Homo sapiens: one gene and its partner. The protein of the gene in region 1 purifies or fractionates together with the protein of each later gene. This does not show direct contact. Each region holds a gene or a part of one and is shown on either strand. Other genes may lie near its edges.

What was found. The genes of interacting proteins can lie anywhere in the genome.
Region 2: the proteins of HOXB3 (region 1) and FBLN5 purify together in Homo sapiens (affinity purification with mass spectrometry; one large-scale study listed by BioGRID and IntAct). This does not show direct contact.

What each region holds. Positions count from the first base shown.
Region 1 is NC_000017.11:48,555,742-48,559,241, reverse strand, and holds part of HOXB3 (homeobox protein Hox-B3), read left to right. Parts: intron 1-175; exon of another isoform or gene 176-3,500. UniProt on the Homo sapiens protein: Sequence-specific transcription factor which is part of a developmental regulatory system that provides cells with specific positional identities on the anterior-posterior axis.
Region 2 is NC_000014.9:91,930,695-91,934,194, reverse strand, and holds part of FBLN5 (fibulin-5 isoform 1 precursor), read left to right. Parts: intron 1-3,500. UniProt on the Homo sapiens protein: Essential for elastic fiber formation, is involved in the assembly of continuous elastin (ELN) polymer and promotes the interaction of microfibrils and ELN. Stabilizes and organizes elastic fibers in the skin, lung and vasculature.

The DNA of each region.
Region 1 (3,500 bases):
GATCCCGCCGCCGAGGTCTAGAAGGGCGGGTAGCCCTTGATTGTTCCAGAGGGTTTAAAGTGCTCCCGTCGCCTGATACTGGGTACCCAGTGGGGTGGGGGAGAGAAGTGCCAGAGCGAGTGCTCTGGCTCTGAAGAAACGGAATGGAAGAGGAAAAGATGTCTGTGAAGAAGGGCATTTTCTCTAATCTTTACCCTTATTATTTTTTTACTTCATTAGTTTATGCTAGTGTCTCTGTCTCTTACTCAATTTTCCTCTTTTTCAATTTCTCTTTCTCCTCCTTTCTCTCTCTCTCTCTCTCACACACACACACACCCTACACACATGGGCACACACACACAGTTTTCCAGGTTTCCCTCCCAAATCCAAGAAGAAATTGTTCCCTCTTCTGTATCTCCAGTCTGTTCCGAAATCATGGCTTCACTCTCAGGGATGATAAGCCCTTCTCCTGCTTCTCTTTTCCCAGACCCCAAAGTCTTCCCTCAGCCTGCTCTGGCGTCCCCCACCCCAAGTTCCCTGCTCAAACTCCTCACTACCAGCCTTTATCCCCTGAAGTTTGAAAATCCCCTGGCTAGCAGCAACACCTCAGTCCAAACAGGGGCCCTTAGGGGTGCCTGTTCCACCCTCCGTCCTCCAGCCTCCCAGCCCTAATCAGAGGGCAGCCCGCCTGCTCGCCAGAGACCTCTGAGAATGGAAGAAAAAAGGCAAGACAGAAACTAAACTGGGATCTAATTGCCTCCCAAGTATTCCAAATGGGCTCTGTACTCCAGAATTAAGAAGCCCCCACTCCATCTCCTACCGCATTTGGGGGTATATGTCCTCTGAGATTTTCTCCAGGTTCATTTTCTTGCTTCTCGGTCCTCTTTTTCACTCCCACCCCACTATGCCCCACTGCCTTCTGTAGCCCGAGGGACCACAAAGAGTTGAGGAGGCTTGGGGAAGGGAGGGGTCTGCTGTTGTCTCTGGAACACTCCTCCACTCCCAGCTCAGCTCCAGGCCCGCTTCTCCTGCAGCCGGCCCGAGGCTGCCTGGGTGCCTTCTGGACTCTCGTGTTATTCCTAGAGGCAAAGCTGCGCAGTCCCAAAAGCGATCAGGTTCTCCTCTTCTCTCAGTTTTACAATGACCTTCTCTAACCCAATGATAGTAACAGCTAGGACAGCAGAGGTTTTGAGGTACATTCTTGGCTTTTTTTTTATTTGGGGGAGTGATAGAAAAAAAAACCCCAAAGGTACTGGTTTCTTTAAGCCTCTGGAAGCCTCCCTGGCCTGAGTCCCTGACCCACCAAGCTCAAAGTTACATGGGGTCTGACCCTGTAGGTCTCTAACCAGAGTGTAGAGATCTCAGGACAGACTTTTTGCAGCCACATGCTCAGGCACCCCTAACAGGTCTCTTTGGGGTTCCAGGCTGGCTTGAGCCCCAAGTCTAGGTCTGACTTGGATGTTTTATTTTCTTGATACTACTAATAAACACAGAAAAATACTAATAAACACAGAATAATAGCTAATAAACACAGAAAAATAGCTCCCACCCTCCATCCCCATGTCCCCCAACCCGTGCTTCCCCCCAGCTGTCAACTTTCTAGGTGGGAGGTGGGGTCCTCAGGACATTACATTCTGAGGCTCTGCAAGTGGCTTCTGTTGCTGGAGGGCAGGAAGGCCATAGGTACCCCCAGTTTATCAGGGCCCCTGGAAACCGGCTGCTCCAAATCACCTGGCCTGACTTAGCCTTGCCTGGAAGAAGTAGGGGCTGGAGGCCAGGGGCCACTCCCTATCTCATCCCAAAGTAGAGCCTGTGAGTGGGGAGAGAGAGGGAATGAGGGAAGCTTTGCCAGACACCTCCAACCTATGCTGGAGGGAACACAAAAGCTGGAAATCAACTCTCACCTTTGTTGTCCCCAGTCCCGTTCCCTCTTCTGGTGCATCCAGATGGGAGAAGGCAAAAGCCAAGTATTCTAACCAGGAAATCACAGGGTAGTGCCTTACATGAAGTTAAGAGGACCAGTTTTCCAAGCTGCCTTTAGAGAAAAGAGTCAGCTTTCTATTTCATCCCCTAGCTCCGAGTCAGCAGTTAGGCAGAGTTGCAAACACTCCTGCTTTGGGAAATGTCCTGGTGCTCTTTTTGTCTTTTCCTTCCTCCCGGAATGACTATTCCCCACCCCCTGTCCCAAATCTGCAGACACCTACATTTTTGGCTCCTGTCTTCCTCCTACAGGCCTCCTCCTTGCCTTTTCCTGCCCTGCTCAAACACACCCTAAGAAAACTTTAGCTTTTGTGGCCTTCCTCACTTGTGCCAAGAGTCATAAATCTTGCAGGGCAGAGAGAAACAAACAGGGTTGTTCTGAATAATAATAATAACCATCTTCCATCTCTTCTGCCAGTGCATTTAAAATTAAGCGACCCTGCTAGTTCTTCTCTTCTTAGAAGTACAAATGTCCTTATCACCTCTTAGCCCCTTCTGCCTATTCGGAGGTGAGAATCATAACAGAAACTTATCCATGAAGTTCTTTCAGCCCGTCTACTGCCAGCCAGTCTGGAGCTCAAACTAAAACACAGAGTCCTCCTTTTGTCACCCTTTTCTCAACCCTCCTCCCCCTGCAAGATGTTCAGAGTTTTTAAAATCATCACTCACCGCTTGTTGTCTGTTCTCAAAAAGAAAAAGGGGGAGGGGTGTTTTTTTTTTTTTTTTTTTTTTAAGTTCTGGTCTTTCCCTCTCCCTTGGTTAGAGACTGGGCCTGGAGACTGGAGGGAGATTTGGGAGGAATAGAGAGGGTGTAGTGGAGGGAAGAAGCCGGGGCTGGAGACTCAGAAGGAGGGAGCCAGAGTGTGAGGGTTGGAGACCCAGAACTACTTTCTAAAAAAGTCCTGGTGTTCCAATTGCGAATGAGTGCAGAGGGGCACCCGGCACCCTCACCCCCGGGCCAGGCCTGCCTTTGACTCAGCCTCCAAATACTACTTCTCATATTAGCATAATAGTTCACTAGTGGGGTATGGGGGGAGCTGTGAACTTCACCGCCCTTCCTTGCCTTTGCTCACCTCTTCCTCCCTGTCCCTCCAATCTAGATTTAAATTTTTACCTGTTCTTTAAGGAAAAAAAAAAAACCCTCCTTCTTTTCTTCTTACTCTTTTTTTGGGGAGGCGGGTATTTTAAAATTTCCCCCCTTCCCCATCACCACCATCACCTTCCCTCCTTATCAGGCATCTAAGCTTGCTAAAGGGGGAGAGGTGGGGGGGTGTGAGCTTGTGTGTGAGTGAGTGTGTGTGTGTGTCTGTGTGGTTTTTTTTCCCTGTGCAAAAGCAGAGGCCATTGTTACGGAGAGTAGGGCGTACCAGTCTTATAGGGCAACCACACTGTGGCGGCTTAGCCCTGCTGGAGCCCGGAGCTGGATTCTGGCGAGCTGAGCCGCCCGGCACCTTTCGGTCTTCTATTTTTTTTCCCGCTCCCCCACCCCCTCCCTCCTGCGCACCCCTGCTCCTAAGCCGAGTGAATTGAAGCGGACGCCG
Region 2 (3,500 bases), on another chromosome or scaffold:
GACAGGGTCTGGCTGTTACCCAGGCTGTAGTGCAGTGGCACAATCACTGCAACCTCTGCCTCCTTGGCTCAAGCGATCCTCCCATTTCAGCCTCCCAAGTAGCTGGGACTACAGGCATGTGCCACCATGATCCTCGATCACTGCAACCTCTGCCTCCTGGGCTCAAGTGATCCTCTCATTTCAGCCTCCCAAGTAGCTGGGACTACAGGCATGTGCCACCATGCCTGGCTTATTTTTGTATTTTTTTGGTAGAGACAGGGTTTTGCCATGTTGCCCAGGCTGGTCTCAAATTCCTGGGCTCAAGCAATCCTCATGCCTCGGCCTCCCACAATGCTGGGATTATAGGTGTGAGCCGTGGCACCCAGCTATCTCTCTTTTTTTTTCATAATGAAACTTTTTGCTCTGTAAAATTTTGAACCTAGTCAAAAGTAGAAAGAGCATAGTAAGCACCTACCTACTTATCACCCAACTTCTGTAGTTATCAGCACGGGCACAATCTCCTTTCTTCTTTACACTCTACTCAGTGCATTAATTTAAAGCAAATCCCAGACATCATATAATTTCATTCTTAAAGACTTCAGAATTATCTCTAAGAGATAAAGAAATTCTTTACAAAAACAAATTTAAGGCCAGGCACGGTGGCTCATGCCTGTAATCCCAGCACTTTGGGAGGCCGAGGTGGGTGGATCACCTGAGGTCAGGAGTTCGAGACCAGCCTGGCCAACATGATGAAACCCCCTAAAAATACAAAAATTAGTTGGGTGTGGTGGTATGCACCTGTTTTCCCAGCTACTCGGGAGGCTGAGGCAGGAGAATTGCTTGAACCCAGGAGGTGGAGGTTGCAGTGAGCCGAGCTCGTGCCACTACACTCCAGCCTGGGCGACAGAGCAAGACTCTGCCTCAAAAAAATAAAAAATTAAAATAAAAAAACTTCCAAAAAGCACAATACCATTATCAAACCTACAGAAGTCAATAATAATCTCTTTTTATCATTAAATATCCAGGTAGTGTTCAAATCTCTCTGATTGTCTCATAAATGCCTTGCAATTTCATCACAAATGGCCAGAAGAATCCCTGCAGTCCCCGGAGTAGCATGGCTCTAACAAAATCCTGCTTTCTCAGCCACAAAACATTTCACTAACATTAGTTATTGGAGTCCCTACATTTGCCACTGAGCCAAGTTGGTTAGCAAAGCCAGAACTTGGAATATCCACCCAGAGGGATGACAAGCTGAGCCCCAAAGGGGCCATGCATACGAAGCCATCTCAGCAGCCTGTTGTCTGTTGGTTTGTTGAAATCAGATCCATGCAAATTCTGCAAATTGCATTGGTTGACAAGTCTCTTAAATGTCTTTTAGTCTTTACTGTTTCCCTGGCCACTTATTTGTTGAAGAGGCTGAGCTGCTTGTTCTGTAGAATTTCATACGTTTCGGAGGTGGCTGATTGCACTCTTGCCGGGGCGCGGGTTATCTTATTCCTTCGTCCCCTATATTTTCTTGTAAGCTGCTCATAGATCTAGGGACTTGATCCAATTCAGGTTAAATTTTTGGGCAGGCTATTTTGCAGGTAGCATCTTTGATCTTTTGCCCTCTTCATGCACTGATTTCTTCTCAAAGTGTAAGACAGTCTGCCTTGGGGAGGCAAATGAGCATCCCCTTTCACGGCGGTTTACTTTTTCTAGGGTTTGGACCCACTTTCAAGGAAGCACTTCATCCCTTGGTGCCGCATGAAGCCATGCTGTTTCCATGGGCTGGGCGGGGCCGGGCTCAGCACCTGGGTGGCCAGTCCCTCAGAGCTTCCTCCTCAATTTTTCTCTTTTTGGTTCCACTTTGGAGGTGACTAGACCCTGTCCTTTTGGAACAATGTTTGGCCTTAGGTTTGAGTCCACAGGCCCCTAGGTGTGCACTTGGGACATTTCTGCAGACACAGTGAACAGTGACCTAGGAATTATAGTCCACGAGCCAAGCAAGTTTTGTGTTGTTCAGAAAACTGGCATCTTGGCATGACAGTGATGGGACTCATGGCTCATTAGAGTGTGTCACCCAGATCCTGGACCCTTGGGAGATCTGGTGACCAGATTCTCAGGGGAGGGAGAGCCAGACAGACATGGTTAACGGGTAAGCAGGGAGGGGCTGCTGAAGGAGAGCCTCACCCAACAGCTCACAATCAAGACCCAGACAGAGGCCAAATCAAACACATACGTAGAGTTCTGAGCTGGCCACATAGACATCCCAGAGAAGGACGGTGTGGGGCTGAGGATGGTGTGGTGCTGAAGCCTCAGGGGGTGGGGTGAGCTGGTGCCGAGTGGCTGGGGCACCCAAGATGTGGACTCCCATTCAGGAACCTTCCTCTCATGGCACGCTGCCTCTAAGACCGGGTCCCTGAACGTGGCCGCCACTCAACTCTGTCAACTCATTCCCTTGGGGGCTCAACTTGTCATCTCTCTGGGTGGACATTCCAAGTTCTAGCTTTGCTAACCAGCTTGGCTCAGTGGCAAATGTAGAGACTCCATCAGTAACTCATGTTTGTGAAATATTTTGCGGCTGAGAAAGCAGCCTTTTACTAGAGCCCTGCTACTCCGGGGACTGCAGAAATTCCGGCCATTTGTGAAATTACAAGCAATATCTTGATTCTCTCTTCTAGTCCAGGATTTTTGTTATTGTTATTGATCTGAGAACAGGCAGAGAGCAACACATGGAATCCTTTTGGAAGGTGGGTGGTGTTGGTCTGAGGCTTTCTCTTGAGTTATTTTTCCTGAAAGCCAGCCAGTACTTCTTCAGTCAACCAATGTGTACAGAGTGCTTTGTTGGTGCCAGGCTCTGGCCTAGGCACCGAGGGGGATGTGGAGTTTTGCATGGCCACGGAGCTCTCTCTAGAGCTTGTGGACAAGGAAGGGAGATTAAACGCAACACAAGCACAAGCAGCTGAAATTCAAGACGGCCTCTGATGAGTTCCTGAGATGGTATAAAAAGAAGGCAGAGATAAGAAGCCTTCTGGGGTGGAGGGGACTGGAACTGGGAAGTCAGACAGGCTTTGAGTCTCACCTTGGTTTGGCCACTTCCTACCTGTGAGGACGGGGGTTGGTTTCCTCATCTGTAAAATGGATATAACAATGCCTGTCTCACAGATAACATGTGCAAACACCTTGCCCAGTGTTTACGCAGAGTATCCCATAGTAAACGTTAACTGGGAAAGATTTGTGGAGAAGGCTGCTAGGGTCTTGAGATGATAACCCAGGGGAAGAGTCACAGAGTCTGAAAATGCATCAAACGTCTAATTCTTCAAAACCTTTAAAATGACCTAAAACTGAGCCTAGTACACATTTACCTTGCAGGCCTCGAACGGCTTTCCCCAGCTAAGCCTGATGTGGCTTCACTCGGAATCTGCTTGGAAATGGCAGCAGAACCTGGGATTATTTAAATTGTGAGACAGAAAAGTGGGAAGTGGGAACAAATGTGGCATAAAGGCCGGGGCAAGTAGGAACCTCAGCCCCTAATGCTG